Homo sapiens: one gene and its partners. The protein of the gene in region 1 purifies or fractionates together with the protein of each later gene. This does not show direct contact. Each region holds a gene or a part of one and is shown in the gene's direction. Other genes may lie near its edges.

Region 1 (4,452 bases):
TCGACAATGGCCTGTGGCCCAGGCTCCCTCTGGGGTGCTGCTGGCTTATTCCCACCCACGGGCCTTGCCCTCGCCACCCACCTGTCCATCATCCAGGGCCCTCCTGCCCTGGCATACACTGACATTGGGCTCAGAACAGCTCCCTCATGTTCCTGTCGAGGAGCCTGCCACCAGCCAGAGGGGTGCATAGGTTGTGACAGGCCTTCCCAGGAAGTTTGGTGGCCAGTGGACCCAGCTGAGGCTGGGCTGGAGATGGTGGGTGCAGGGGACTGTAGTTCCCCCACGGCATCTCATTGCAGCTCTTGCTTCCCCGCTCAGGACCTGCCTTGTCCACCATGAAAGGCACCCGGGCCATCGGCAGCGTCCCGGAGCGCAGCCCAGCAGGTGTGGACCTGAGTCTGACAGGTCTCCCTCCGCCTGTGTCCCGGCGTCCTGGCAGTGCCGCCACCACCAAGCCCATCGTCCGCTCTGTCTCCGTGGTCACAGGCAGCGAGCAGAAGAGGAAGGTGCTGGTGAGTACTGTGGCCTAGGAGTCCGGGCCCCTGCCTCCTGGAGGGCTGTTGTTCAGTTGGCATCTGACCCCTGGGTCCAGCTCCACAGGTGAACAAGTGCCTCACATCTGGACATGCTGGATCCTCGTGGCTGTTCCAGGAGGCAGGTAGGACTTGAGTCTTACAGGCGTGGGTGCTGAATCACTAGAAAGTCAAGCCAGAGCTTGGATTCTTTCAGCAACAGCCCCAGGCCTCCTGTGCCACCGCCCTTTGGATTTGTTTGAATCCTCAGGAAATGGGGTTGGCTGGGCTCGGTGGCTCACGCCTGTAATCTCAGCACTTTGGGAGGCCGAGGCAGGCGGGTCATCTGAGGTCAGCAGTTCAAGACCAGCCTGACCAACATGGTGAAACTCCGTCTCTACTAAAGATACAAAAAAAAATTAGCCGGGCATGGTGGTGCATGCCTGTAATCCTAGCTACTCGGGAGGCTGAGGCAGGAGATTTGCTCGAACCCAGGAGGCAGAGGTTGCGGTGAGCCGAGATCGTGCCGTTGCACTCCAGCCTGGCGACAGAGTGAGATGCCATCTCAAAAAAAAAAAAAAAAGAAAGAAATGGGGTTGACCTGTGGGGAGGGGTGATGAGCTCCTGGTGGCCTTGGAGAAACCTAGACGGGTGTGTGGGTGTGTGGGCAGCAGGACAGCCGTGGGAGCTTCGGGGTGAGAGCTGCCTTTCCTGCCCACCTCTGGGAGTAGGGAGGAGGGTGGGTGGTTCCCAGATGGGGGCTGTGAAAGGCAGGCCGGGCCTGCTGCACCCTGAGTTGGTGTCTGCCAGGCCCAGTCTTTGGGGCAAGGGAGGAATCGAGCCGCTCTGTGGGGGTTGGGGCAGAGCCTGACCAGAGTCTGGCCTGAGCTTCCGAATAGCAAGGGCCTGGGGGCCTTGGCTTCCATGCGGCAGCCGGTCTGGGGCTCCCTGCCTGAGGTCCGTGCCAGGCAACATAGCAGGGCAGAGAGAAGGGGTCTGGAGGGCAGTTGAGGCTTCCCACAGGAACCCCTGGCAGGCCCAGGCCAGGGTTCCACTGTGAATAAAAGGCTTGGACCTCCCCCTTCTCCTTGAAAAAGTTATTCCTGTGTCTGCCCTAGAAGCACCCCCAGGTGGGCAGGGTGTGGCCCGCCAGACGGCTAGCCGAGTTCCGGGGTAAGGGCAGCCGGGCCAGTAGCGGACCCTTGGACCAAGCAGGTTCCCAAAGCCTGGGCCAGCAGGGCGGGGACCCGGGATGTCCTGATGTGTCATTGTGGCCGGCAGGTTGTCTAAAGATGTGGTACGCCTCTAGGCATTTACAGACGTAAGCTGTGAAAATAAAAATATGCTGCACTGTTTTAGCAGAGGGGTAACCAGCTTGGGCTAGAGCCGTCTCTGAGCCTGCTGCCTCTCCTGTCCGCAGCCCTGCTCCTGCGTCACTGACCCCCTCGCCCACCTGCCTTGGCCCCTCCCGCTGTTTCTAAAGCCCTAGGTTCATGGCACATGGGGCGGGGAAGACGCACTCGAAATCGCAGATCTGGGCTGGGCGAGGTGGCTCACGCCCGTGATCCCAGCACTTTGGGAGGTTGAGGCGGGTGGATCACCTGAGGTCAGGAGTTCAATACCAGCCTGGCCAACATAGTGAAACCCTGCCTCTACTGAAAATGCAAAAATTAGCCGGGCGTGGTGGCGCGCACCCTTAATCCCAGCTACTCAGGAGGCTGAGACAGGAGAGTTGCTTGAACCCGGGCGGAGGAGGCTGCAGTGAGCCGAGATCATGCCACTGTACTCCAGCCTGGGCGAAAGAGCAAGACTCTGTCTCAAAAAAAGAAAGAAAGAAAGAAAGAGGGAGGGGGAGGGGGAGGGAGAGGGAGAGGGAGAAGGAGAAAGAAAGAAATTGCAGCTCTCTTGTTGTGTGGAGACTGTTGTAAAAGTTTCCGGGCTTTCTAGTAGATGGTCTTTCGGCGGCATGGCCAGGCTCTATCCGCGGCCGACCCAGGCACCTAACCACACTCCCAGCCTTTCTGCTGGGAAATGTTCTGTTGCTGAGTAGAGGTTCAAAGCCACAGCGAGCGCTACTCATATCGATCCCTCCTTTCCTCGGCTGGTACCATTGCCCGCTCCCGCAGTGTTGAGTGGCGACTGCTAACAGTCCCCTCGTTCATGGAATGTTCCAGCTGTTCACTTCAATTCTTTGAGGCCCTCGCTCGATCCGAGACGGCCCCACCCCTGCATGCCTGTCTGCCTTCTGTTGTGCCCATGGTGGGAGCTCGGGAACTGCTGGTGGAAGAGGAACCCCCGCCAGTGTGTGACGTGACCTCAGGGGTTTCTGTTGTGCCCGGTCCCCATCCTCTCGGCCACCTGCCCTGCTACCACTCAGTCTCATCGGGATTCCTGGAGAGCATTTGTTTTGGCCAGGCATGGCTTCACACCTGTACAAGGCGGCACGTGATTCTCTTCCTCCTGGTGTTTGTGGGTGGGGTGGGGTGCTGTCCCCTGGCTCGGAGACCTTCTCGGTGGCCATTGGCCTGGGGTTTCCACTCTACCCCTTGTCTCTAAAGATCTTCCTGCGTCCACGGCCTGCTGTCCCGGGATTCCCCATCCAGGATGTAACTGCAGTTCCTGCTGGTCTTCTGGCTCAAGAGATGTCGGTGCCAGACTGTAGAGGGTCCCTCTTCCTTGCCCCAGCTGTGTGCCCACCTGATCCTCTAGCCCCCTAGATCATTATTCACTCTGGTTCCCTTCCCCTTAAAGAAAAGAGGTCTTTAAATCCCAAGAGCACAAGCTCACTGGGGAACAGACATCACTGTGCATATGTGTCATGGCCATGGGGGCCACCTGCCCCTCCCTGGGCGATGTTGCCTCCTTCTTGCAGGTGGAGTTTAGGGTTTTTAGTCCATGACTTGATTTACCATCTGAGCATGAGTGGTGCCTTTCCACCGTGGTGTCCGTCAGTGAGTGGCAGCCCCTTCATCCCTCCCCTGACATCCCTTATCTTCCTCTTGGAGGCTGCGAAACTGACCCCAGGAAAATGGAGACAGGATGAAGGGCACCCATAATCCCATGGCCCTGATGCAATGACTGGTGCCATTTTGGGGGATGATTTCAAAATTCCTACCATGTGTTTTGAATAGGCCATTCACACCCACCATTTGGGAAAAGGGGGCTCATTGAGCAGTGAGCCTGTCCTGCCCGACCTTGCGGGCCTCTCCTAGGCGGCCACTGTTCTGTTTCTCCTGCACCCACACTTACTCTGGGCACACAGGCATCAGTGATGCTGGAGATGTGTTGGAACAAGTGCCGTATCCGTCAGCTGCGTGGGGCTCCTGCATTCTCTTTTCTTTTTCTTTTTAAGACGGGGTCTTGCTCTGTTGCCCAGGCTGGAGTGCAGTGGAGAAACCACAGCTTACTGCAGCCTCCACCTCCCGGACACAAGTGATCCTCTTACCTCAGCATCCTGAGTAGCATGGATTACAGGTGCTCACCACCCTGCCCAGCTAATTTTTAATTTTTTTTTTCTTTTGAGACAGACTTTTGCTCTTTTTGCCCAGGCTGGAGTGCATTTGTGAGATCTCGGCTCACTGCAGCCTCTGCCTCCCGGGTTCAAGGGATTCTCCTGCCTCTGCCTCCCAAGAAGCTGGGATTACAGGCATGCACCACCATGCCCGGCTAATTTTGTATTTTTAGTAGCGACGGGGTTTCGCCATGTTGGTCAGGCTGGTCTTGAACTCTTGACCTCAGGTGATCCTCCTGCCTCAGCCTCCCGAAGTGCTGGGATTACAGGTGTGAGCCACCACACCCAGCCTACTAATTTTTAATTTTTTTGTAGGGACAGGGGTCTCACTAGGTTGCTGGTCCTTAACTCCTGGGCTGAAGCGATCCTCCCACCTCGGCCTCCCAAAGTGCTGGGATTACGGGTGTGGGCCGCTGCACCTGACCCTGC
Region 2 (4,452 bases), on another chromosome or scaffold:
AAAATAAATTTTCCTCACTAGACTATAGCTCCATGATAATGGTTGGAAGTCACAGGAAAGGTAGATTTCTGCTCAGTGTAAGCCTGTTATTGCTATTAACATTGAAATGGCCTGATCTTAAGTTTCTGAGCTTCCTGTCATTGGAAGCATTTAAGTAGTCCTGAATAGTCAACTGTTAATAAATATTATAGGTATTTCTATTTTGGAAAGAGATTGAACCAACTGCCCAGGGTTTCAAGGATTAAGTTCAGCAGTTAATACCAGAGACTTGAAAAATGGTGGTTTCTGGTAACAGAGACCTGGAAACCATGGCTTAAGCAAGAGAAGGATTTTGTTTCTTTGGTATAACAAAAATCCAAAAATAGGTATTTTAGTAGACCTCAAGTGATTACTCCTTGATCGCATTAGGAACCCAGGCTCCTTTTAACCTTAGCTATTTTCAACATATGCTTTTCACCTGAAATCATAAGATAGCTTATCTGCCTCCAGTATTGTGTACATGTAAAAGGTGGTAATAAGGAGAAGGATAGTGGAAAAGGGGGCATGTGCCAAATGAGTCAGTCCTCTTTAAAGAGTTCTTCCAGAAGTTCAAGCCAGTGGCCTCAATTGACTAACATTGTATAGCATGACCACCCCTACCTACAAGGGATGGGAAGCTAACTGGACATGTTGTTACTAATAAAAACCAGAGTATGTCAGAAAGAAGGGAAGGTTTGATGTTGGGAGGCAAGTAAGTTTTTTCTTCTACCCATCAAAATCTTTTTTTAGTTAGAAAATATTTGAATCTAACATGTCCCACTCCATTGTGGCACCAATACAAATGGTTATGGATACATGGCTTTATTATAGTTTGTTACTAGGAATAGTCTTGGCCGTATTGATTTGAATTCTCCATGTCTAAAAACAGGAACAAGCAGGTCCAAGAACACTTTAAAAGCACTTCCCACTCAGCTGCTTGTTAACTGAAAGAATGTAGAAAAGCTACTCAGAAGAGTAGCTATTCAGGCCAAACTTCCTGATAGTAGAGCATTGTTAGCTTTACACTTTTATTTCCATCTATTGCTGCCTAGATTCCCTTCCTTACTGTACTTCTTTATTCCTTTCCTCTTCTCTGTTCTTGCCTTTCAAATTTTTAGACAGGGTCTCACTCTCTTGCCCAGGCTGGAGTGCAGTGGCTTGATCACAGCTCTCTGCAGCCTCAAATTACTGGGCTCAAGCAATCCTCTCATCTCAGCCTCTTGAGCAGCTGAGACTACAGGCGTGTACCACCACACCCAGCTAATTTTTTTAATTTTTTTGTAGAAACAGGGTCTCACTATGTTGTCCAGGCTAGTCTCAAACTCCTGGCTTCAAGCAATCCTCCCACCTTGGCCCCCCAAAGTGCTGGGTTTACAGCCTGAGCCACAGAATTGAGCTCTTTAAAATTTTTAAATGCCCCAAACTCTTTTTATTTATCTCTCATTAGAGATCTGTGGGTTCCTTATTACCTGGGAAATGAATACATTTCCCAGCTTGTCCTTGAGTTAAGAGACTCAATTTAGAAGTTAATTGAAATTATAAACATTGAAACCCTGAAAAAAATGTTTTTTTTTTCCTCGTGATACAGGTTGTTTCTTATCTAAAATGCTTGGGACCAGAAATATTTCAGATTTTTGATTTTTTTTTTAATTTGGGAATATTTGTGTTAGACCAGTTGAGCATCCCAGATCTGAAAGTCTGAAATCCAAAAGGGTCAACTGAGCATTTCCTTTGAGTGTCATAGTGACTCTCAAAAAGTTTCAGACTTCAGAGCATTTTGAATTTCAGATTTTAGGGTTTGGGATGCTCAACATGTAACAGTATTCTTGATTTGGGAAACAGTAATTATAAGGAATGTGTTTATTTTACATTTTATATTGATTTATTTATTGAGATGTTGCTGGATATATGCCAATGGATATGACAGAGGTCCCCCTTCTTATGGCCAAGACAGAAAATATTTTATGCTTTGTAGGCCACCTATGCTCTATCAGATTTTTCTTATGGGCTGGATTTAGCCCATCACCATTTTTTAATTCTTGCTTTAGACTATGTAGTCAGAAAAGCTATTGGCAAAGTTTAGCAGTTAAGAGTTACATGTCCTGATTTCTGTATTCAAAATGGCACTAAAATAATAGACTAAGGGCAGACAAGACAGAAACAGAAGAGTTACATTCCTAAGTTTTTGGCTTATTTAACTGGGGCCATTTATAAGAATGGAAGGCTGGGAGAAAACTGATCTGGGAGGTAAAATATATTAATAAGTTCAGTTTTGAAGGTGTAACTTATAGATTCCTAAATGTAATTGTCAGTTAGAGTTTAGGAGGAGTCCATCACACACACACACACACACACACACACACACACACACACACACTTATAGATAGATCACACACACCCTTATAGATAGATCACACACACACATAGATAGATAGATAGATAGATAGATAGATAGATAGATAGATAGATAGATAGATAAATCAGCATATAGGTGGCACCTAAAGCCATGGGATTGTATGGTATTTCCTAGGGAGAACAGAGGGCTATAAAGTAAGTCAAAGGGGTAGTCCAGCTGAGGAGCCTAGAAAGCTTAAGAGTATTTAGTGAGTTAAGAAAACTAGAGAAGAGTATCATGGAAGCTAAAAGAGAATGAAGTGGTTAGCTGTATCAAGTCATGCTGTCAAATAAGATAAATAGGCAGAAAAAAACAATGCACAGGACATTATGGACTTTAACAAGAATAGTTTCACTGGAATAGTATGGGGCAAAAACTATATTGAAGTTTTGCTCTGAAGACCAACAGAGAAATGGTGCTATAGCAAAGAGAATGATGTGATCAAGGGACCATTTGCTTGATGATAGAATGATTCAGTAGAGAAGAGGGACTTGACGATGCAAGAGGAGGGATTTACTTGCATATGTTATGGATTGGCTGTGAAATTCATGTATTTTTGTTTGTTTGTTTGTTTGTTTGTTTGTTTGTTTTAGATGGAGTCTCACTCTGTCGCCCAGGCTGGAGTGCAGTGGCATGATCTCAGCTCACTGCAACCTCCGCCTCCCGGGTTCACGCGATTCTCCTGCCTCAGCCTCCCGAGTAGCTGGGACTACAGGCACATGCCACCACACCCGGCTAATTTTTTGTATTTTTAGTAGAGACAGAGTTTTACTATGTTAGCCAGTATGGTCTCCATCTCCTGACCTTGTGATACACCCGCCTCATCCTCCCAAAGTGCTGGGATTACAGGTGTGAATCACCACGCCCTGCCTGAAATTCATGTATTTTAAGGGGCAAACAGGAATCGTCTTGGTTAAAGCAAAGGGAATAAAGAATTTTCTAAATAGACTAAGAGCAAAATCCAAGTGCTTGAGAAAGCACAGCATACTTGGGGGATGGCAAGCACTTAATATTGGCTGAAATGGAGTTTCCTTTTAAGCTAATGACAAAAGTAGTTGGCTAGATCAAGAAATACCACTGTATTATGCCACAGTGTTTAGAATTTATTCTGAGGACAGTGAGGATCCTCTGAAGAATGTAAAACTAGGAAAATAATTTTTTTTTTTTTGAGACGGAGTCTCGCTCTGTCTCCCAGGCTGGAGTACAGTGGTGCAATCTTGGCTTACTGCAGCCTCCGCCTTCCAGGTTCAAGTGATTCTCCTGCCTCAGCCTCCTGAGTAGCTGTGACTACAGGCGCCCGCCACCATGCCTGGCTAATTTTTGTATTTTTTAGTAAAGATGGAGTTTCACCATGCTGGCCAGGCTTATCTTGAACTCCCGACCTCAAGTTGTCTGCCCGCCTCGGCCTCCCAAAGTGCTGGGATTACAGGCGTGAGCCACCGCACCCAGCTGAAAATAAATTTTTGATAGCATTTTTTAAAGGTAAGATAGAGGAATATAAATTTGGAGGTTGGCAAAACTGGAGGCAGGAGGCCAGGCGCGGTGGCTCATGCCTGTAATCCCAGCATTTTGGGAGGGCAAGGTGGACTGATCACTTGAGGTCAGGAGTTCAAGAACACCCTGACCAACATGGTGAAACCCTGTCTCTACTAAAAATACAAAAATTAACCGGGTGTGGTGGCACTTGGCTGTAATCCCAGCTACTCAGGAGGCTGGGGCAGTAGAATCACTTGAACCTGGCAGGAGGAGGTGGCAGTGAGCCAAGGTTGCGCCACTGCACTCTAGCCTGGGCAACAGCACTTGGCCTTCCAAAGTGCTGGAATTATAGGCGTGAGCCCCTGTGCCTGGTCCCTCTATCCATTTTTAGCCTGTTTCTTTCAAGTGTTTTTAAAATATGTTTATTATGAAACTGAAAGTTTTTCTTTATGACAAATCATATAATTTATCTTTTTCTCTTTACGAAGATTGAAGAATTGGAGGAGAAACTTAATGATGCACTTCACCAGAAGCAGCTACTAACATTGAGATTAGACAACCAA
Region 3 (4,452 bases), on another chromosome or scaffold:
AATGTCAGAATATCTTATAGTAGTTTATTTGTGCTGTATTTTTTCTTTTTAGTGTATAATGACTTCCCTTATATTTCTTTTTTTAAACAGCTTTATTTAATTAATTAATTTATATATTTTTTGAGACGGAGTCTTGCTCTGTCGTCCAGGCTGGAGTGCAGTGGCACGATCTTGGCTCACTGCAAGCTCCGCCTCCCGGGTTCATGCCATTCTCCCGCCTCAGCCTCCTGAGTAGCTGGGACTACAGGTCCCCGCCACCACGCCCAGCTAATTTTTTACATTTTTATTAGAGACAGGATTTACCATGTTAGCCAGGATGGTCTTGATTTCCTGACCTCGTGATCCGCCTGCCTCGGCCTCCCAAAGTGCTGGGATTACAGGCATGAGCCACCGTGCCCAGCCTTAAACAGCTTTATTGAGATATCATTGACACACAATAAACTGCACATACCTAACTGTACAATTTTACAAGATTTGATCTATGTATACACATGAAATCATTCCCACATCACTTTCCCAAATTTCTTTTTTTTTTTTTTTTTTTTGAGACAGGGTCTTGCTCTGTTGCCCAGGCTGGAGTACAGTGGCATGATCTTGGCTCACTCAACCACTGCCTCCTAGGTTCAGTCAATTCTGCCTCAGCTTCCCGAGTAGCTGGGACTACAGGCTTGTGCCACCATGGCTGGCTAAGTTATGTATTTTTAGTAGAGACTGGGTTTTGCCATGTTGGCCAGGCTTATCTCTCCACCTCAAATGATCCGCCCACCTTAGCCTCCCAAAGTACTGGGATTACAGGCGAGAGCCACCATGCCCACCCCAAATTTTCTCATTCTCCTTTGTAATTTATCTTCCTTTCATTCTCCCGTTTCCTCTAAACCACTGGTCTGCTGTCACTATAGAGTAGTTCAAATTTTCTGGAATTTTAGATTAATGGAATTATGCAGTAATATACTTTTTTTTGTTGTTGAGGCTTCTTAAACTCAGAATAATGGTTTGGAGATTCATTCATGTTGATTTATGTAGTAGTAGTTTATTCCTCTTCATTGCTGAGTAGTATTTCATTGTGTGAGTACACAGCAATTCATTTATCTACCTATTGATGAACATTAGATTTGTTGCTAATTTTTGGCTATTACAAATAAAGCTGTTATGAATACTTGCATACAAGTATTGTATAGACATATACTTTCATTTATCTTGGGTAAGTACCCAGGAGTGGAATGGCTGGATCTTATGGTAGGTGTATGCTTAGCTTTTTAAGAAACTGCCAAACTGTTTTCCCAAGTGATTGTACCATTTTACATTCTTAACCACCAGCAGGTAAACATGCTGTTTCCTTTGCATCCTTGTCAACACTTGGCATAGTTGGTCTTTTTTAGACATTTGTGGTATTTTATTGTGGGTTTTTAAAATTTTTATTTTTTTAATTTTAAAGACAGGGTCTTGCTCTGTTGCCGAGGCTGGAGTACAGTAGTACAGTCATAGTTCCCAAGTAGCTAGGACCACACACATGTGCCACCATGCCCGGCTGTTTTTTAAAATATTTTATTTTGTAGAGATGAGGTCTTGCTATGTTGCCCAGGCTGGTCTTGAACTCCTGGCCTCAAGCAGTCCTCCCACCTTGGCCTCCCGGTGTTGAGATCACAGGCATGAGCCATGTGTCCAGCCATCATTGTGGTTTTAATTTGCATTTCCCTAACAACTAGTGATGTAAAGAATCTTTTCATGTGTTTTTTATGCTATCTTTGTATCTTCTTTGGTGAAGTGTCCTAGTCTTTTGCTGATGTTTTTATTGGGTTGTTTTCTTATTATTAAATTTTGAGAATTCTTATATATTTTGAATACAAGTGTTTCATCAAATATATGCTTTGCAAAGAATTTCTCCCAGTTTGTGTCTCATCGTTTTCTTAACAGTGACTTTTGAAAAGCAGAAGGTTTTAATTTTGATGAGGTTCAACTTATAAATTTGTTTTTTATAGATTGGGCTTTTGGTGTGGTATTTAAGAAATCTTTGCCTAGCCTAAGGTCATAAAGATTTTCTCCTATGTTTTCTTCTAGAAGTTTTATGTTTTAGATTTAGATCTGTGATGCATTTTGTATTTCTTACATGGTGTGAGTTATGGATGGAAGTTAATTTTCTGCATATGGAAATTCAGTTGTTCCAACACTGTTGAAACGACTATTCTTTCTCCATTGAATTGCCTTTGCACCCTTGTCAAAAATCAGTTGTCTGTTATATCCTTTTTTATTGTATCAGTTGATATACACATGGTATTACACAGTATTGTTAATTATCACAGCTGGATGACCAACTAAATGAAAAGCAGCTATCTCCAAGCCAGTACTTGATAATGTGTTTTTGTCACGTTTAATCACATTTCTAGTTTCCTTACAATAGCCTTTGTGGAAGGCTTTCCTACTCAGACATTCCTTCTCCCTCTTTTCCTTTCTTTTTTTGTTATTTGCTCTCTGTTATAATAATAAAGTCTGGTGATGAGGGTACATACATACCTTATCCCTTTTAACTAATCTCAAATACACTTTTTAAAAAATGTTTCCTATTGATAATTATATTACTTTTCTTTGAAAACCTCCCAACCTAGATCATTCACTTAATTTTAATTTTTCTATTCTTGATTATGTGTTTCTTCCCCTGTTGTATTCTGCTGAGTAATGGCATGATTGGAAAGAGTGCCCACTTAAGTTAAAGCCTGGCTACACAGGTGTAGCCTTGAAGAAGTTGTGAGCCTTATCGAGCCTCAAGTTTCTAATGTCTAAATGGGGCCACTGATTCTTCACTCTGGGTTGTTTTGAAATAAAGGAGATGTTTATGTATGTCCACATACAGAAACAAATGGATATGAAGTACCTCAGTGGAGAGTTAGTGCCTTCCCCTTACCCAACTCCATGAACTCTGAATAATCATTTTGTTTGAACTGGGAGGCAGGACAGGCCTCTGCTCTCTGGGGAGGACAGGCACTGACCCCTCTGCAGTCTATCCAGGCAAGTAGCTCTGAAGAGAACTGGAGTTAGAGACAACCCTGTCTGTTCAAGTCATGCAAGGATGGGAGAAGAGCTCCTCACCATGCACACCCTGGATCCCGCTGTCTTCGGGGCCCTTCTCTATCAGTAATCCATCCTCTCTCCCGAATTCAGTCTCGCCTTTCCTTGACTTTTTGCTTTGGGCCTGGAAACAATATGTCAAGTCCATTGACCCTGGTGCTGCTTCTAGCTGTCTCCTTTCTCAGCCAGCTTCTTACAGGGGTTGTCTGTGCTTATTGCTTCTACTACTTCACCTGCCAACTCACTCCCCAGCCAGGTACCATTTCTTAGAAACGTTTCATGCCACAGGCATCCATATCTTAATTGCCTAAACCAGTGGAAACTTTTCAGCCCTAATATAACTGAAGTTGTTTGCAGCATGTTTACACTGTTGGGCTGTCTCCCTCCATCTTGAAACGTTGCTTCCTTGGCATCACTCTTTCTTTGTTCTTTATTTTTTATTTATTTATTTATTTTTTTGAGACAGAGTCTCGCTCTGTCGCCCAGGCTGGAGTGCAGTGGCACGATCTCGGCTCACTGCAGCCCCCGCCTCCCGGGCTCAACCAATTCTCCTGCCTCAGCCTCCCGAGTAGCTGGGATTATAGGCATGTACCACCACACCCAGCTAATTTTTGTATTTTTAGTAGAGATGGGGGTTTTACCATGTTGGCCAGGCTGGTCTGAAACTCCTGACCTCAGGTAATCCACCCGCCTCAGCCTCCCAAAGTGCTGGGATTACAGGCATGAGCCATCGCACCCAGCCTGTTTGTTCATCCTTTTAGTTGTTCATTCAAAGCCAAACTGCATGCCCCTCCATGAATGAGGATATAGCAGAGAGTAAAACACACAAAGCTCCTGTTTGCATGGAGAGCACACTGTACTAGGGGGAGAGAGATAATAAATGAACAAATATTTTCACTTTATTTATTTGGTGATAAATGCTTTAGAGAAAAAAATAAGGTGGGGGGATTGAAAATGCTAGGGGTGGGAGTAGAGGTGTTATTTGATATTGGATGGATAGGAAGCCCTTGCTAATGTAAGCACATTTGAGTAGAGACCTTAATGAAATGAAGGAGCCAGCTCTCTGGCTGCCTACAGGAAGAACGCTCCAGATAGAGGGCACAGTGCAGAGGCCCTGGAGCCAGTGCTCACATGTGTACCCACATCCCAGCCACCATGCGGGTAAGGCTGGGGGGAGCAAAGGGCTGGAGATGAGGCAGAGGAGGTAGTGGGGGTCCCTATACCTTAGGCCTTATTGGCTATGACAAGGATCTTGGTTTTGACTCTGAGTGAGAAGACAGTTGAGAGTCTTGAATAGAGGAATGAATAAACTGGACTGCAGCCTGAGTAGCAGGCAGGAGCACAGACTCCGGAGCTGGCTACTGCGGTAAAAACCCAACCGTCTGCCTG
Region 4 (4,452 bases), on another chromosome or scaffold:
TATGAGGATTTAGAGACAATACAAGCGTGGTATTTAGAATAGTGCCAAGCACATGGAGGTATAGTAGTGTTAATATTATTATCACAGTGTCCTTTTGGTATAAATTCATTTTTTTCTAAAGTTAACATTTGAATCCTTTTTGAAATTGGCTTAGTTTTTATTGTACTTATCACTAAGTTATGCAACAGAACTGTGAAATTCTTTTCAAAATGGCCAACTACATCTGGCAACAAGTCAGTTTCTTTCTTTTCTTTTTTTTTTTTCTGGAGATATCCCTCCAGGAGACTTTCCTCCTCCTGATTCAACATGAAATGATTTCTTCCTGCTGAGTAGCAGTCATTCTGGTTCATTAACTTAGAATTATATCTAGTAATTACTCTTGGAAATTCCTTTTATTAGTTTCCTCTTTGGATGCTCTGTTTCCTGGGTCCCATGTCTATGTTTTATACATGTTACCACCTTTATTTTGGTGGGGAACATCCCCTAGTAGCTTTCTGAGAAAGAATTTTTGAGAACTTGAATATCTGAAAATATTTTTATTCTGTCATTGCCCTTAAGTTGCCTGGGCATAGAATTCTAAGTGGAAACTATTTTCCTTCATAATTCTGAAGACATTGCTTCACTGTCTTCTAGCTTCCATGATTGGCAAGTTTTTATTAAATTTTTTTTATCCTTGATCCTTTCTACATGACCCATTCTTCCCCCTTTGTATGTTTGTTTCATGTGTTTTCTGAATTGTCTTGTTTTTTTTAATTTCTCCTTTTTATGTTTGTTTTGAACAAATATGGAATCAGAAAGCTGCTTTACTTTGTTTTTCTCCTGTCCTTTTAGAATGAACTCAGTGGGGAAGGATTTCTCCTCTCATAAATAAAAGCTTGTGCAGTCCTCTGTCTTTTCTGATTACTGTTAAAAAACAGTTCTAAATATAAAATCAATTTAAGAAACAAAACACAAAAACTAAGCCATTAGGTAATTCAGTCTGTGTAATAGTTAAGGCTTCCAGCACTTTAAAAGTGACAGCCACTCCCTCTCTTTTTTAGGACCTTCAAGCTGCAGGAGGCGAGGACAGGGGTATGGCCTTTCCTCTCTCCTGACCTCGCTTTGTTATCTACCACCCTCACCCTTATTGCCAGCCTTGACACCTGCCTGCTCTAGGGTTGAAACACTAGGGAGGATGGAGATGAGAATAGAAGGCAGGAAGGTCTAACTTGTCTAGGATTGTTGTTAAATTGGCTTTATGCTCTCCAGGCTCAGCCAGTGTTTAGCTCTGACTTTTTTCCCTGAATTCTTTTCGGGATTAAGACAGGTCCAGCAGTGAACTCTTGATTGCCCTTTACGTGTCTTGACTAGCTATTCTCTCCTTGTCATGTTTCTTTGAGGATTTGTTTTGTAAAGATTCTTTTTTCAAGGGGCTTTCATTGTTCCCTCCTAGTGAACCCTTAGAAATTATTAACATCGTTCCAGATAATCTCTTCCTCTCATATTTTCATAGAAGGACCATGGATAACTTACTCTTTTCTCTGACAGCCAGTGGAGTTATAATTTTTAGCTGCATGTTTCTATTCAGCTGCCATAGGCTCTTTCAGCCAGACTCATCTATGGACTTTTTCCAGGGGTAACTCTGATACCACTAACTGCATCTCACTAATGCCAAGGCACACATATCCAACTCTCTGAGTCGTCCCAGTGAAGTCCCTCTTTTAACCTGAGGTTATCAAGAACTATACCTCATCTTTCTTGGTGGTGATGGGGCACTCATAGCACAGTTTTCTTCAAAGGAATCCTTCTCTCAGTTTTCCTTTTTCTTTACCTGTTTTCTCCTGAACAAGAGTGAGGAATTCCAGAATTGTACAAGTAATCTTTGACTACCTGTTTGGAGGGATGTTTTGCAGTTCAATTTGGAATTTGATATATATTACATCTTGGTGCCTTACATTTGTTTACACTGGTCTTTCCCAATACTGCTGATCCATGGTTGTCTGTTACTATTTAAGAATGAGACACTAAAATGCTAATTGCAAACTCCATGGATATAGACAGAAATTGTTGACTGGTAGACTTGACTATATGGTACTCAGGTAAGATACTCTGGCCATTTTGTTGAGTGACTCCTGAATATGACAATCTTAGGTCTTTTCTGTTGAGTCAATTATGCTAAAGAGATGTTCTCTTTGCCAGAATTCTGAGATTGAAAAAGGGGATGGGGGAATGGGCTTTTCACCATTCAGCATGTCAACTTTTACTTAATTCCCATTTTTCAGTAGAGAGCTTGACTCGTTTCCTCATGGTGTCCAACATCTCTGATCACTGAGACTCTCTTGTTCAATATTTACAGAAATAATCATTGCATCTTACGGTAAGATAAGGCATCTAACTTTCTAATGGTTCTTTAGACTTTCAACCAGTCCTGTTTCTAGCCTTGAAGAGTATCTCATGCATTCAGTTCCTGAGCCCCTCTGATGTTATCATATTCAAGATGGCTTGATTTTTATTGGCCTCTCCCATCTGTGGAGACGTAAGTTCCAGTTTTCTTATTTATGTTAAGCCAGGTACCACTCTTAAAATCTACTTTAAATTCTTGAAAATTTAGTTAATATCTCATCTGGTGGCATATCCTTTACTTTTTTCTCTTTCCTTATGGCTCTTTATAATTTACATAATTTCTTAACTGTCATGTTAATGATGTTTCAGGAGGGAGTAAAGAAAATCCCATGTGTTTAGGCCCTTTTACTAATATGGAGACTTTCCTAAATATCAGGCATATTATTATGTATATGGTTAAAAATAATTTATATGATGCCATCACAGTCTGTGAGAGCAAGTTTATTCAACATTTTACCTAGTTATAGATGAGTCTCAGGTAGGTAAAGTGATTTTCTTAAAGTCACACAGTTAGAAAGTTGAAGAGGCAAGATTTCAACTTGGGTATCATTTCTGCAAGTTCCATGTTTTTTATAAAACATCACAACTGCCTTTTGACTGAAATTCAATTCCTCTTCGGCTGTTGGATCTCTTTACTTTTGTGGTACCAACACGATATGCTTTATTTGACAATAGACCCAGATACAGTGGTGCTGACAGAATCCACTAGCAAAGTGCTCTGTAGTAATTTGCTTGTTCACTGGAGCTTGCTCAATGCTTTTTCACAAATCATTAGGTATTTCATTTCTAGATGGTATTTTACCTAAGCAGCATTTTTCATTGACACTTAATCCAAATCATCTTAAATTGTGTCACAATAAATTTATATTGTACTGGTAGCCATAAAAGTCTGAGAATTAGTTGAGTACAACAGTCAACAAGTGAATACTGCCTATGGATCATTATGATGGAGAAGTTGCCTGAAAGCAGAACAACAGGACATAGGCACATTTCAGGTAGAGACATAAGTTAGATACACACACAAAAAAATACCCAATCCATAGGATGACCAGAAAGCACCATTAAGGTAGCTAGTTCTCATTTTCTTGACTCAGGCCCCTTCTAAACAGACAGGGCTGATGGGGTCATTTATGGCTTTATATAAACAGGAAACAACACTTAAAACATATTTATACATAGAGCCACATGACAAAAAGTGACATTTATTGATCAGAAGCTCCACTTGGGTTGTATTTTCCTTTTTATGCCTGGCTTTCTGTAAAAAGGTCTCCTGCCATATGATCAGTTCATTAATTAGGTGTCATCCTGCCTCACCCCAAGTTAGATAGTCACAAAGAGTTTCTATAATGACAGTTTAACCTCTGAGCCTCCTGGGAAATTAAATTCATCTGCATTTTTTCATCAGTCCAAAGAATTCCTCTTTAAGGCTCAAGTCATTGGTCCTTGGCATCCTCCCACAGGGATGAGCTCTTCAATGTCTACCTGTGTTTCTTTTTAATTGTTCATTATCCAGGTCATGCAGGTGCTCCCTAATTTCCCCTGTGGCTAAGAGCCTCACCAGAGTATAAACACTCTCCCTCTTTTTGTGGCACTTTTAATTGTCAGTATTTCTCATTCTTCCTCTAGAGGTAATTGGTCCCAAAGAGATCCTCCAAGAAAGCAAGAGCTGAAACTTTCTTAATTTATTAGATTATGAAATGCAGGGGTATCACAGCAAGTTTGGGTGATTGCTTTTGATTTCTTTCCTGAGATTTACCCAAGTTGAAACAGAGGCTGTTACTCCCCTGCTATCCCACTCTCGAAACCAGCTGTCCAGCAGATGCCTAGATGAGGGTCATTTCTCAGATAGTTGGCATGTCTTACAGTTTTCTCAAGTAATGCCTACCTATAGGCAAGCTCAGTTTTGTGTCATTTGCTTTATGCAGCATCAGCATCACCTGGGGACTTGTTAGAAATGCAAAATCTTGGGCCCCATCCCAGACCCATTGAATCAAAAACTCAGGGTGGAAGACCCAGCAATCTGCATTTTATCAAGTTCCCAGATGAATAATGCACACTAAAGTTTGAGAA
Region 5 (3,500 bases), on another chromosome or scaffold:
TCACCTGAGGTCACATCTGGAAAGGGCCAGCTGGCATGGGGCCTGGGATGGAATTTCTCCACGATGCTCCCTGTCTCCTTCAAGAGGCAGAAAGGGGCCAGGCATGGAGACTCAAACCTGTAATCCCAGCACTTCGGGAGGCCAAGGTGGGCGGATCACCTAAGGTCAGGAGTTTGAGACCAGCCTGGCCAACATAGTAAAACCCCATCTCTACTAAAAAATAATACAAAAATACAAAAATTAGCCAGGTGTGGTGGCACGCACCTGTAGTCCCAGCTACTCAGGAGGCTGAGGTGGAAGAATCGCTTGAACCCGGGAGGCAGAGGTTGCAGTGAGCCAAGACCACGCCATTGCACTCCAGCCTGGGTGACAGAGTGAGAATCCATCTCAAAAAAAAAAAAAAAGCAGAAAGGGTGGAACATGGAGGGATGTGAGGGGCACGGAGGAGGCATGGTGTGATGCCACCCTGCTGAAGAAAGGCCTCTAGGTCCCGTGGCTCAGTTGGTCTGTGCCCCTGATGCCACCCATGGCCTCCTGCAGCCCCACCTCTGCTACCGGGACCTGCACAGCGCCTTGCTGTTGAATCCCAAGCACCCGCAGGCCAGGATGCTGCTCCAGAAGATGGTGGCCCAGGCCCAGCAGGCGCGCCAAGATGCGGGGATCCTGGCTGTGCAGGGCAAGCTGCAGCACGCACTGCAGCGGATCAACCGTGCCATCGAGAACAACCCTCTGGACCCCAGTCTCTTCCTCTTCCGGTACTGCATGGGAAGGTGCTGGCCTTGGGTCCCAGGTCCTGCCCAGCCAGACTTTCTGTGTGGTTTAAGGAGAGTCCCTGACCCTCTCTGGGCCTCAGTTTCCCCAGCTAGCCTCTAACAGTCTTTCCCTACTTCCTACTGGGTTAAGGCATTGCAGAGGTGGTCTCTGTTACTGCTGGAAGAGGGATGCCAACACATGTCTCAGTTACCCCAGGAATCCTAGAGCTGCAGCCTGCAAAGCAGTTCACGCTGGGCGCTGAGCCCAGCTCAGTGGAGGAGACTTAGGCTTGAGTCTGGTCCCAGGAACTTACCACATCCTGCTGCATTTCAGGAGGGAGTGCCGCTGCCCTGGCAGGAGTGACTCCAGGGGGCGGTCCACCCAGCCAATCTCTCCCTATGCCAAGGGGCTGGGTTCAGTATCCCACAAGTGATTCAGTGACATGAGAGGCCACTGTGATTTCGGGCCAATTAACCTATCCAAACAGTGGTGGTAAAACACCTGCTTCTTGTACAAAATGCTTTAATGTAGAGACTGGCATACACCTGGCTCCCAAAAAAGAAGGTATTTTTGCAAAAAAAAAAAAATGCTCAGTGCCTAGTGGGTTATCTGAGTAGCAGTCCAGAGCTGGCCCCACGGGACAAACCTAGCAAATGAGGTGGGATCCCCACTGCCTCCATGGGTCAGGAGGCCCAGAGCCGGCAGTGGCTTGTCTGGCCACTAGCCAGTCGGTGGGGGTGCACTGGCGCTCATGTCCCTCCTGCCGTCTCCCACGCCCCCCCCGACAGGGGCACCATGTACCGACGGCTCCAGGAGTTCGATGGGGCAGTGGAGGACTTCCTGAAGGTGCTGGACATGGTGACCGAGGACCAGGAGGACATGGTGCGGCAGGCACAGCGCCAGCTGTTGCTGACCTACAACGACTTTGCCGTGCACTGCTACAGGCAGGGCGCCTACCAGGAGGGCGTGCTGCTGCTGAACAAGGCCCTCCGGGACGAGCAGCAGGAGAAAGGACTCTACATCAACCGAGGCGGTGCGCAGCGACCAGGGCACTGGGGAGGGGGGGTGCGGGGGAGCCTCGCCATCTCTAAGGCCCCCACTGGGCACTTGAGGCCCCTGGGGGGAAGGAGGAAGGGAGAGAGGAAGGAAGCAAGGGAAGAGGAAATGTAATAGTCTCAGTATCCCAGGAACACACTTTGGGAAATGTTGCCTTAGACAAACTGGCTCCAGACTCCTTAAAATGCTCAAAACAGGCAGCTGGGGAACAGTGCCCAGACGCCCAGAAAACTAGAGAGGACGGAGACTGCGGCGGGGGGTTATCAGCCACCAGTTTCAGGCCCTGGCCCCCGGGCTGGAGCCGGCTGGGCTGGGGCTCCCGGGCACTGGGAGTTGGGGGTCCACTCACCCCCGCCTCCGGACCCTAGATTGCTTCTTCCAGCTGGGCAACCTGGCCTTTGCCGAGGCGGACTACCAGCAGGCGCTGGCGCTGAGCCCTCAGGACGAGGGCGCCAACACGCGCATGGGCCTGCTGCAGGAGAAGATGGGCTTCTGCGAGCAGAGGCGCAAGTGCGTGGGCTCCCGCCCCCACGGTGGGCGGGGCAGGCCCGAGGGCAGGGCGGGCAGGAGGCCAACTGCTGGGATCCCTGGGTCAATCAAGCTGCTTCTCTCCTCGGGGGCGATGGCTCATCCCTGTAATCCCCACGCAGGTGGATCGCCTGAGGTCGAGAGTTTGAGACCAATCTGGCCAATATGGTGAAACCCATCTCTATTAAAAATATAAAAAAATTTAAAAATTAGCTGGGCGTGGTGGTGTGTGCCTGTAATCCCAGCTACTCAGGAGGCTGAGGCACGGGAATCCCTTGAGCCAGGGAGGCGGAGCTGGCAGTTAGCCAGGATTGCGCCACTGCACTCCAGCCTGAGCGACAGAGTGAGACTCTGTCCCAAAAAAAAAGGCTGGGCACGGTGGCTCACGCCTGTAATCCCAGCACTTTGGGAGGCCGAGGCGGGCGGATCACAAGGTCAGGAGATCGAGACCATCCTGGCTAACCTGGTGAAACCCCGTCTCTACTAAAAATACAAAAAATTAGCCGGGCGTCGTGGTGGGCGCCTATAGTCCCAGCTACTCGGGAGGCTGAGGCAGGAGAATGGCGTGAACCCGGGAGGTGGAGCTTGCAGTGAGCCGAGATCAAGCCACTGCACTCCAGCCTGGGTGACAGAGTGAGACTCCGTCTCAAAAAAAAAAAAAAAAAAAAAAAGCTTCTCTCTCCGTTATGCTTTCCTTTTTTTTAGATGGAGTCTCACTCTGTTGCCCAGACTGGAGTGTAATGGCGCCATCTCAGCTCACTGCAACCTCCACCTCCCGGGTTCAAGCAACTCTCCTGCCTTAGCTTCCCAAGTAGCTGGGATTACAGGCACCTGCCACCACGCCCAGCTAATTTTTGTATTTTTAGTAGAGACAGGGTTTCACCATGCTGGCCAGGCTGGTCTCAAACTTCCCACCTCAGGCGATCCACCTGCCTTGGCCTCCCAAAGTGCTGGGATTACAGGCGTGAGCCACCATGCCCGGCCTATACTGCTTTTCTTTGTGATATTTTTACTACTCAATAACTTGGAACTTAATCATAGTCAAATTAATATATTCATTTTAGCCGATGGGTTTATGCCATTCTCAGAAACGCCTTCCCTACCCCAAGATCATAAAGATATTCATTGATGTTGGAGTTTCACACTGGCATCGAAGTGTTGGC
Region 6 (4,452 bases), on another chromosome or scaffold:
TTTTTTTGTATTTTTGTAGAGACGTGGTTTCACCGTGTTTCCCAGGCTGGTCTCGAGCTCCTGGACTCAAGCCATCCTCCCCCGTCAGCCTCCCAAAGTTCAGGAATTACAGGTGTGAGCCACTGTGCCTGGCCTACCTTGAGCAGTTTCTAATGTCTGTGTCTCAGTTTGCACATGGTCCACTGGGGCTGCCTGTAGCGTCTCTCTCCTAGGATTGTTTAAGAAGAAAAAGTGAGGCTGGGTATGGGGGCTCACACCTGTAATCCTGGCACTTTGGGAGGCCAAGGCTGGTGGATCACTTGAGGTCAGGAGTTCGAGACCAGCCTGGCCAACATGGTGAAACCCCATCTTGACTAAAAATACAAAAATTAACCAGGCGTGGTGGCAGGTGCCTGTAATCCCAGCTACTTGGGAGGCTGAGGCAGGAGAATCGCTTGAACCCGGGAGGCGGAGGTTGCAGTGAGCTGAGATCACGCCACTGCACTCCAGCCTGGGCTACAGAGCAAGGATCCATCTCAAAAAAAAAGTAAGCGAGTTAGTGTGTGTGAAGCTCGTCACGTGTCTGGAGCCTCTGGTACTATTAGCTCAGGGCCTTCCTCTACTGCGACTCCTTCCCCGGCCTCTTGGCCTGGCAGACTCCTCATCCTTCAGGTCTGTTGCTGTCTCAAGAGGGCTTTCCTAAACTCGCCCTTCCCCAACGAAACCAGGACAGGAGCTCCTGCTGTACTCACCCGAATTTCTCTTTCAGGAATATTAATCGTATTTTTCATTTGTGAGCACAACAAAGTCAAGGTCCATCTCTCTCTGGCCTCTGTTGTAACCCTGCTTGTAGTACATGCTCTGTAGTGTGCTGCTGGGGTCCAGTGTAGCCCAGGCCAGTTCTGCTGTTCATTTTGCCTCAGCGACCTGAAGCCGAAGCGCGACCGTATCGAGGAATGACATGCTTCTTGTTCCCCTCCTTCCAGAGCACTCCGCTGGTCCAGGCGGCAACATGTCCATGCTTTTAGTGATGTCCCTGCCTCTAATCCAGAAGCCATGGAGGAGATAAGGTAGCCCCCCTCGATCGGATGGGGAAGCCCAGTTCAATGGATACTAAATTCAAGGATGACTTATTTCGGAAGTACGTGCAGTTCCATGAGAGCAAAGTGGATACCACCACCAGCAGGCAGCGGCCTGGCAGCGATGAGTGCCTGCGGGTGGCAGCCTCAACCCTGCTCAGCCTGCACAAGGTGGATCCCTTTTATCGATTCCGGCTGATCCAGTTCTATGAGGTGGTGGAGAGCTCCTTGCGCTCGCTCAGCTCCTCTAGCCTGCGGGCTCTGCACGGCGCCTTCAGCATGCTGGAGACGGTGGGCATCAACCTCTTCCTCTACCCGTGGAAGAAGGAATTCAGAAGCATCAAGGTGAGGTCCTGGAGCAGCCTCCATACAGGCCCTCCTTCTCTCTTCCTGCCCCTGGCAGTCCCTCCTGAGAGGCTATGCCAGTCTGATCCCATCCATCCTGTGCTCTCAGATCCTTCCGGGCTCCGAACCTTCCCCGTCTCTCCAGCATCACCTCTGAACCGTTTCTGGCCCGGCTGCCACACCTTAAGCAGAGAAGCTGGGAAGGCAGGGGCAGCCAGGTTATGCAGGGTCTTGTGGCCCAGGGCAAGGCTTGGATTTGTTCTGAGTAGGCGGGGAAGGAGGCAGTGTGGGATCTGGCTTGCATCTGAAGAGGGTCATTCTGGCTGTGGTATGGGAAGTAGGCTGTAGAGGGGTGGGGGGAGGTGGGAGGGATGGGGAGAGCAGTTAGGAAGCTTCTCAGCGGTCCCAGCAAGCTGAGGGGTGTTCTGTACTAAGTGGGAACAGTAGAGGAGGAGGGGGAATTGAGAGAGGGATCCTGAATCAGACCACGCGGGGGATGGCACAGGAGAGCTGTCACCTAGCCAGGCTTCTTCATTCTGCCATGGGAGGAGTGGTAATCAAGAGAGGGGATGGCACAGGAGAGCTGTCACCTAGCCAGGCCCTTCAGTCTGCCGTGTTACTCAGCCCCTCATGGAAATACCAGAGAGGAACGTTCTGATTGTCACCGCGTTCTGCCTGTAATCTGGCCCCTTTATTCAGCCATGTTTGCCCAGGCTCTCTCTTCATATGGAGTAGAGTCTTCGTGCCCCACTAGGAAGCGAGAGGTTTTGCTTCCTGTGTTTAACAAAGTAGCTGCTGCCAGGCGCGGTGGCTCACACCTGTAATCCCAGCACATTGGGAGGCCGAGGCGGGTGGATCACGAGGTCAGGAGTTTGAGACCAGCTTGACCAGCACGGTGAAACCCCATCTCTACTAAAAACAGAAAAATTAGCTGGGCGTGTTGGCGGGCGCCTGTAATCCCAGCTATTCAGGAGGCTGAGGCAGGAGAATCGCTTGAACCCAGGAGGCGGAGGTTGCAGTGAGCCAAGATCGCACCACCGCACTCCACCCTGGGCAAAAGAGCGAGACTCCGTCTCAAACAAAAGAAAGGAGCTGCTGGGTCATTTCCTTGCACAATTCCTGAGTGCTTAGCAAGCCCCAGCTCCTGCGTCTTCTGCCTCCCGCAGGGTGAGGCTGTCGAGATCCTTCCCTGCCCTGCCCTCTCCCCGCCGCCCCACTTCAGAGCTGGACATCCTTTGCTTTGACATAGTCTCTGTCTTGTGTCTCTGACAGAAAACCCCACCTTTCTTTTCTACTCCCTCCCTTCTAGACCTACACGGGCCCTTTTGTTTATTATGTCAAGTCGACATTACTGGAAGAGGACATCCGAGCCATCCTGAGCTGCATGGGCTACACACCTGAGCTGGGCACTGCATACAAGCTCAGAGAGCTCGTGGAGACCCTCCAGGTGAAGATGGTCTCCTTTGAGCTCTTTCTGGCCAAAGTCGAGTGTGAGCAGATGCTAGAAATCCACTCACAAGTGAAGGACAAGGGCTACTCCGAGCTGGACATTGTGAGCGAGCGCAAGAGCAGTGCAGAGGATGTGCGCGGCTGCTCGGACGCCCTGCGGCGGCGGGCAGAGGGCCGGGAGCACCTGACGGCCTCCATGTCACGAGTGGCACTCCAGAAGTCGGCCAGCGAGCGGGCGGCCAAGGACTACTACAAGCCCCGCGTGACCAAGCCCTCGAGGTCAGTGGATGCCTATGACAGCTACTGGGAGAGCCGGAAGCCACCCCTGAAGGCCTCATTGAGTCTTCGGAAGGAGCCTGTGGCAACGGATGTGGGGGACGACCTCAAGGATGAGATCATCCGCCCATCCCCTTCGCTGCTGACCATGGCCAGCTCCCCCCACGGCAGCCCGGATGTGCTTCCACCCGCCTCCCCCAGCAACGGCCCGGCCCTGCTGCGCGGTACCTACTTCTCCACTCAGGATGACGTGGATCTGTACACAGACTCTGAACCCAGGGCCACCTACCGTCGGCAGGATGCTCTGCGGCCGGATGTGTGGCTGCTCAGAAACGATGCCCACTCCCTCTACCACAAGCGCTCGCCCCCTGCCAAAGAGTCCGCCCTCTCCAAGTGCCAAAGCTGCGGGCTGTCCTGCAGCTCCTCCCTCTGCCAGCGCTGTGACAGCCTGCTCACCTGTCCTCCAGCTTCCAAGCCCAGCGCCTTCCCCAGCAAGGCCTCGACTCATGACAGCCTGGCCCACGGGGCATCTCTGCGGGAGAAGTACCCAGGCCAGACTCAGGGCCTCGACCGCCTCCCGCACCTTCACTCCAAATCCAAGCCCTCCACCACGCCCACTTCCCGCTGTGGCTTCTGCAACCGCCCAGGCGCCACCAACACCTGCACCCAGTGTTCAAAAGTCTCATGTGACGCCTGCCTCAGCGCTTACCATTATGACCCCTGCTACAAAAAGAGTGAGCTGCACAAGTTCATGCCCAACAACCAGCTGAACTACAAGTCCACCCAGCTCTCCCATCTCGTGTACAGATAGACCGGCCTCGCCCCTTCCAGCTCCAAGGGCTACATCAACCGACCTTTCGGGTTTCACGGTGAAGAAGTACTAACGCATTGATCTCAGAGGCGGAGGCCTGCACTTGACCATGTAGGTGGCAGAGATCGTGGGCTGGCTGTGTCCACGTGGGAGTTCACTTAGCGACTCAGATATCTCAACCAATGGCTGCTTTGTTGTCTGACAAGGGAGAAGGTGGCACTTCCGTTCAGATTCATTTTGCTAATCTCTCCACTCCCTGTTCAGTTGGTTCTTTTTTTGGGGTTTTGTTTTGTTTTGTTTTGTTGTTTTGTTTTTTCCTTTAAAGAGGATTTCTGTCTCTGGGACCCTCGCTGCACCTACCCCTCCCATTGCAAAGCCAACTTGGACTGGGAAGGGCCCTTCAGGTCACCAAACATCCACCTGGAGCGGCGAGCTAGAGGCCTGTTGGCTTGTGAAATGAGCCCTCCTGCCACACGGGGCCTCTCCCAAAGGCTCATCCCTTGGCCGCCCCCT
Region 7 (5,043 bases), on another chromosome or scaffold:
AGAATTGTCTCACGATGGGCCAAAATGGCTAGGCCTTGATTCCCTCACCTTGCTCCATTGCTGGATTAGGGCTGTTCCAGGAAGGACATTTCCCTAAGCGAGACTGCTCTCTGCTATAGGACAGACCCTAAAGCAGCTGACCACTGGATACTCTTCTCATCACATACCCTGCAGCTGTGCAACAAGTCCTTCTTCGAAGGGGGATCTGCATGTTACATCTCATGTCTACACAAGCAGTGGTGTGCTGGAGCTGGCTCACCCCAGCTCACAGGAGTTGTTGGCATCTTTATCCAACCACAGTCAGTGGTGACATTTTTGCATGTCGAAATTAGCCACTGTGGGAGAATTGACACCACAGAAATTGGCAAATGCCACAAACCAGAACTTTATTTTTTTCCTGGAGAGCTGGTTTACCAGCACACCTCGAATGTGGTCCACAAGTGATTAACACTGAGTAGGTTAATGATTGTCCCTACAATTCAGTCTTCTCATCGGTAAAGTGGGGCCAATAATACTGTAAGAATACTAATATTACTTAGGCTATAGGGTCAGCATGAGAATTAAATGAGTTAATACATGTAAAATACTCTGGACAGCGATTAAATGAGTTAATATATGTAAAATACTCTGGATGGCGACTGCCACACAGGAAACACCCGGTAAGTATTAACTACTATGTTTACTGTTGCCATTGTTATTACAATTATTGCTACCTTAAAAACTTCCACTGGATTTTCATAGAGGACAAGCACCTAAATTTCTTAGTATGACATGCAAAGACCTTTCACAATCTGATAGTTTCAAGCACAAGAAACTTTTCATCATTTCTGGAACTCAAACTGTTTTCCACCTCCAAACCTTGTCACGCCCATGTACCTTCTGCCAGGAAAGCCCACTCCTCCCTTGCCTGTCAACTTCCAATTTTTTTCATCCTTTTGAACCAGCACCCATCACCTCCTCTCTGATGCCCTCTCCACCCACTACATGAGGGTTCCTTCTTCAGTGTTGCCATTGCATATTGCACAACCCTCAGTTACTCTGACAGCACTTTATTGTGATTACTTGTTTACATAACTGTCTCCTCCTTTGAGTCCAGGATTGGATCTGCTATTTCTCTGTGTAGGCAGCACAGTAACACAGGTACTAATAAATATTTGTTGCATGAATGAACATTGCCTGGGAAATGCATAAGAGGGGGGAAATAGAGTACATAGCCTAGTAGGCTATAATAATAATAATAATATTTTTATTTGCTTAAGTGACTCTAAGTATATTGTGTAAAGCAGTGACTTTAGGACCCCAGAGCTTCAGGTTCTGTAAGTCCTAGATTTGTCATATACTCACATCCTGACACAGTCCTACTTATCCTTCAGATGGCTCAGATGTCACGCTCTCTGTGAGGGTTTTCCTCCCAGCTGTCCTCTTGCCGCTCTTTGCCTGCGCACCTATTCACATACGCATAATTGACTCTTCTGGACGTCCCTGTGGGGATCCAGTGGTGTTTGTGTATTCCCACTCCATGGTACAGAGGGGCGGATATTTTGGGGATCCTGTGAGCGTGGTGTTAACAATATTTGGGGATAGTCACAGCCTTAGACCTGTGAATTCATCGCTCACCCTGCCTCCGCCTCAATTTCCCCTAGTGTGATGGGCACAGTGGAAACACCTTCCCAGGGTCGCGATTTAGTGGAGGGCGGCGGAGACTGATGTTGCAGGAAGCCCCCACGCATTCCGAGGAGCTGAGGAATAGAGAGCGAGGTGAGGCGTCGAAACAAGGAAGGAGTCAGGGGGCGTGGAGCGAGACTGGGCGGTGGACGGGACGGGCCGGGCCGGGGCCAGAGGGCGGGGCCTGAGCCGGGAGGGGGCGGAGACAGGGGCGGGGCAGGCGAGGGCGGGAGCGGCTGCCGCCGCGCGGCCAGGACTGTCTGAGGGGAAGTTCGCGAGCGCTGGCTATGGGTCCTGGGGCGCGGCTGGCGGCGCTGCTGGCGGTGCTGGCGCTCGGGACAGGAGACCCAGAAAGGGCTGCGGCTCGGGGCGACACGTTCTCGGCGCTGACCAGCGTGGCGCGCGCCCTGGCGCCCGAGCGCCGGCTGCTGGGGCTGCTGAGGCGGTACCTGCGCGGGGAGGAGGCGCGGCTGCGGGACCTGACTAGGTGAGGGCACGACGAGTGGGAGCGACCGAGGGGCCTCAGTGGGATACACTGTGCCGCAGGGTGGGGTGACTCAGGTTGAGTGTGACCCCAGGCTCATTGTCATGCTGCGTGGGACCCCAGACCCACTGTCGCACCGTGCGACTGAGACATTGTGGCATGGGGTGGGGAGTGGCTCTGAGGGCCAGTGTGACCCCCTAGACCCATTGTCACCCTGTGTGGGACCCTGACACTCCGTGGCATGAGGTGTTGGCGAGGGTTGGGTCACACTGGGACTGCAGACTCCATCACACACATAGTGGCACCCCCCATATCCAGCGTCACACAGCAAAGTTGATACACTGTGGAAGAGCGGGGCGGGGTGACTCTAGGACCTCACAATGTGCTGTGCAAAGCTGTGTGAGCCCCAGGCCCTGTGTCACACTGACACAGACACAGTGGACGGTGCTGTGACAGAGACACTGTGAGAGTGACATGGAGAGAATACGGTGACGCTTTAGCTACGCAAGTATTGACCTTTCAAGGGGGGATCGTGAAACACCGCATGACCTAGTGAGCTGATGTTTAGTGTTAGGAGTCAGGTGACAGTCTTCCACCATATGTGAGGTTTACATGTCATTGGGACTGGATGGGCACGACACTGTGGATATCATACTCTGCATGTGAATGATGCTGAGTAACTGTACAGGTCGCTATATGAATAATGCTTCAGTTCATTAATTCATACAACACATATTTTTGAGTGCCTACTAAGAGCCAGGCAGTGTTCCAGGCAGTGGGGATAAAATGGTGATCAAGAGCCAACTCTGCCCTCGAGGAGTTTGGGTCTGTAGCACCATGACTGTTAATCAGAGATGTCCACTGCCGTCTACGTCTTCAGTTCTTCCTTCTCTTTACACATGTAGAAGCTCTCTAAATACTAAATAAATGATAACTGAGATGTTATATGTGTGTCAACATATTTGATATCAAAAAAGCACTGTGAAAAAACATACTTGATGCAGAAGATACTGAGTGTAGCACACAGCAGTGGATGCTCAGCTAATATAGTTTTGGGGTACAGTCAACAAACTCTAGTGCTACACACTGTGGCATAAAAGGTTGTCAGACTTGGGATGCTGAGGCACCATAGTCATGTATCGACTTAGCAGTGTCCAACTGACAAAAATGAAAGATAAATGATTGTATATGATACCATCTGTATGAATATGTGCTGCGCCTTCTCTGCCTGGGACATCAAGAAGCCTACAACACTGACAGAGTGGTTATGACCACGTCACTATTTGGATATATTAATATTGTACTTATATCATGTGACCTTATCATTGAGCAAAGACAGCACAATGCACTGCTTTTAAAACTTTGCGTGAGTGTGTGTGGTAATAATACTGATTCTGGGGTGACATGAGAAGAAGGTATGTGGAATGGGGAGTGACTCTGAGGTCCAGTGTGACCCCCAAACCCATTGTCACCCTGTGCGAAACTTTGTGACCCCATGACTGTGAGAGAGAGCTATGTAGAAGAGAAGCATTTTGTGGGTGGAAAGTATTTGCGAGAGATCTTGTTAATAGTGACTGAATGAGCTAATGTGGTGCTTGTCCTTAAGTATGTGGCTTGCGTATAAACAGCTTGAAATAGTGTGACAATATACAATATAGGTATGTATTAATTTTAACAATAAATGAAGATCATTTCAATAATTATTGTCACTCTTTGGAATAGCATAGTTGTCTAGTATTCTATGGGTCCATGTTGACCGAGCCAAATGTTTTCTTTTTGTTCATAGCCCAGAGTCATTGGAGTCCAAGCTTATTAGTGGAAATAGGACAGAATTTTTTCTCTTTGATTTCAGAGCCCAGCATTCTCCCTGCTACCCATGCTTGTTCTCATACCAGTAATCTCTTTGGGTAGCTCAGATGGAGACGGGAGTGGGGGGTCAAAATCCCCCTGCTGGTCTTTCAGGTTACATTCTCAGAAGAGAGCACTTGAAGCATTTTGGCCAAAGCAGCTGGCCAACCCCATTCCACCATGCTGGTCTCCTTCACTGTCTTTCCACCACTGTCATTATCACAACTTTGTCACAGCAGGAGGTCTCATACAAACCATATCTCATCTGATTCTCTCTCACACACAATGCTTTGAAATAGATTTGTATTACACTTGTTAACTATTGAGAAATCAGTTAAAACATGAGAAAACTAAAGTCTAGTTGCTCACTCAAGATTGTATTAATAAATCTAATAGGTAGCAAATCCAGGACTAGGACACAGTTGTTTTGATTGTTTATCCAACTTTTTTCCTACTATGCTATGTTATCCCTACCACTTCTTTTATCTGTTATACCAAGACATAGACCAAGCCCCTAACTAATTGAGGTTTTACTAGTGGCCACAGTACATGGTGGTTAACAGTGAATTCAGGAGTTTAACAGACCTCTATTTGAATCGTTGGCTCTGATCTTGGACAAGTTACTTTACCTCTTTGAGCTTTAGTTTCCTAATCTGTAAAATGATGATAAAAATAGTACCTACCACCATAGGGTTTTTGGAAGGATTAAGAGTACCATGTAAAAGTTTTTATCATTGTACCTGGCATGTAACAATTGATGGACAAATGCTAAGCCTTTATGCTTATTATTTTATTTTATTTTATTTTAAGACCATCTAGTGAAACTAGGCCCCACTTTTGGCTCTAAGTATTAACTAGGATTGTGACAGCCTAGATAAAAAAACAAATCAGAAAAGTTCTCAATTATTTTCTCAGGTGACTTATGAACAGTTAATTTTGTAGTTTAGTTTGATATTTTGAAGACTGTCATTCTGTCATTCTGTTCTCTAGTGACTGCTCTAAAACCCAGTGAAATGTTTGCTTTTTAAGAGACAGGGTCTTGCTCT

What was found.
Region 2: the proteins of CEP131 (region 1) and PIBF1 purify together in Homo sapiens (affinity purification with mass spectrometry; one large-scale study listed by BioGRID and IntAct). This does not show direct contact.
Region 3: the proteins of CEP131 (region 1) and RASSF8 purify together in Homo sapiens (co-immunoprecipitation; one large-scale study listed by IntAct). This does not show direct contact.
Region 4: the proteins of CEP131 (region 1) and LPXN purify together in Homo sapiens (co-immunoprecipitation; one large-scale study listed by IntAct). This does not show direct contact.
Region 5: the proteins of CEP131 (region 1) and TTC16 purify together in Homo sapiens (co-immunoprecipitation; one large-scale study listed by IntAct). This does not show direct contact.
Region 6: the proteins of CEP131 (region 1) and SPATA2 purify together in Homo sapiens (affinity purification with western blotting, with the first as the bait; one study listed by BioGRID). This does not show direct contact.
Region 7: the proteins of CEP131 (region 1) and P4HA3 purify together in Homo sapiens (co-immunoprecipitation; one large-scale study listed by IntAct). This does not show direct contact.

Annotation. Positions count from the first base shown.
Region 1 is NC_000017.11:81,215,940-81,220,391, reverse strand, and holds part of CEP131 (centrosomal protein of 131 kDa), read left to right. Parts: intron 1-318; 5' UTR 319-335; coding exon 336-512; intron 513-4,452. UniProt on the Homo sapiens protein: Component of centriolar satellites contributing to the building of a complex and dynamic network required to regulate cilia/flagellum formation.
Region 2 is NC_000013.11:72,788,070-72,792,521, forward strand, and holds part of PIBF1 (progesterone-induced-blocking factor 1), read left to right. Parts: intron 1-4,377; coding exon 4,378-4,452.
Region 3 is NC_000012.12:25,964,839-25,969,290, forward strand, and holds part of RASSF8 (ras association domain-containing protein 8), read left to right. Parts: intron 1-4,452.
Region 4 is NC_000011.10:58,544,258-58,548,709, reverse strand, and holds part of LPXN (leupaxin), read left to right. Parts: intron 1-4,452. UniProt on the Homo sapiens protein: Transcriptional coactivator for androgen receptor (AR) and serum response factor (SRF). Contributes to the regulation of cell adhesion, spreading and cell migration and acts as a negative regulator in integrin-mediated cell adhesion events.
Region 5 is NC_000009.12:127,722,579-127,726,078, forward strand, and holds part of TTC16 (tetratricopeptide repeat protein 16), read left to right. Parts: intron 1-540; coding exon 541-755; intron 756-1,541; coding exon 1,542-1,786; intron 1,787-2,177; coding exon 2,178-2,319; intron 2,320-3,500.
Region 6 is NC_000020.11:49,905,106-49,909,557, reverse strand, and holds part of SPATA2 (spermatogenesis-associated protein 2), read left to right. Parts: intron 1-965; 5' UTR 966-1,067; coding exon 1,068-1,403; intron 1,404-2,712; coding exon 2,713-3,939; 3' UTR 3,940-4,452.
Region 7 is NC_000011.10:74,308,521-74,313,563, reverse strand, and holds the start of P4HA3 (prolyl 4-hydroxylase subunit alpha-3 isoform 1 precursor), read left to right. Parts: upstream 1-1,923; 5' UTR 1,924-1,952; coding exon 1,953-2,152; exon of another isoform or gene 2,153-2,202; intron 2,203-5,043. UniProt on the Homo sapiens protein: Catalyzes the post-translational formation of 4-hydroxyproline in -Xaa-Pro-Gly- sequences in collagens and other proteins.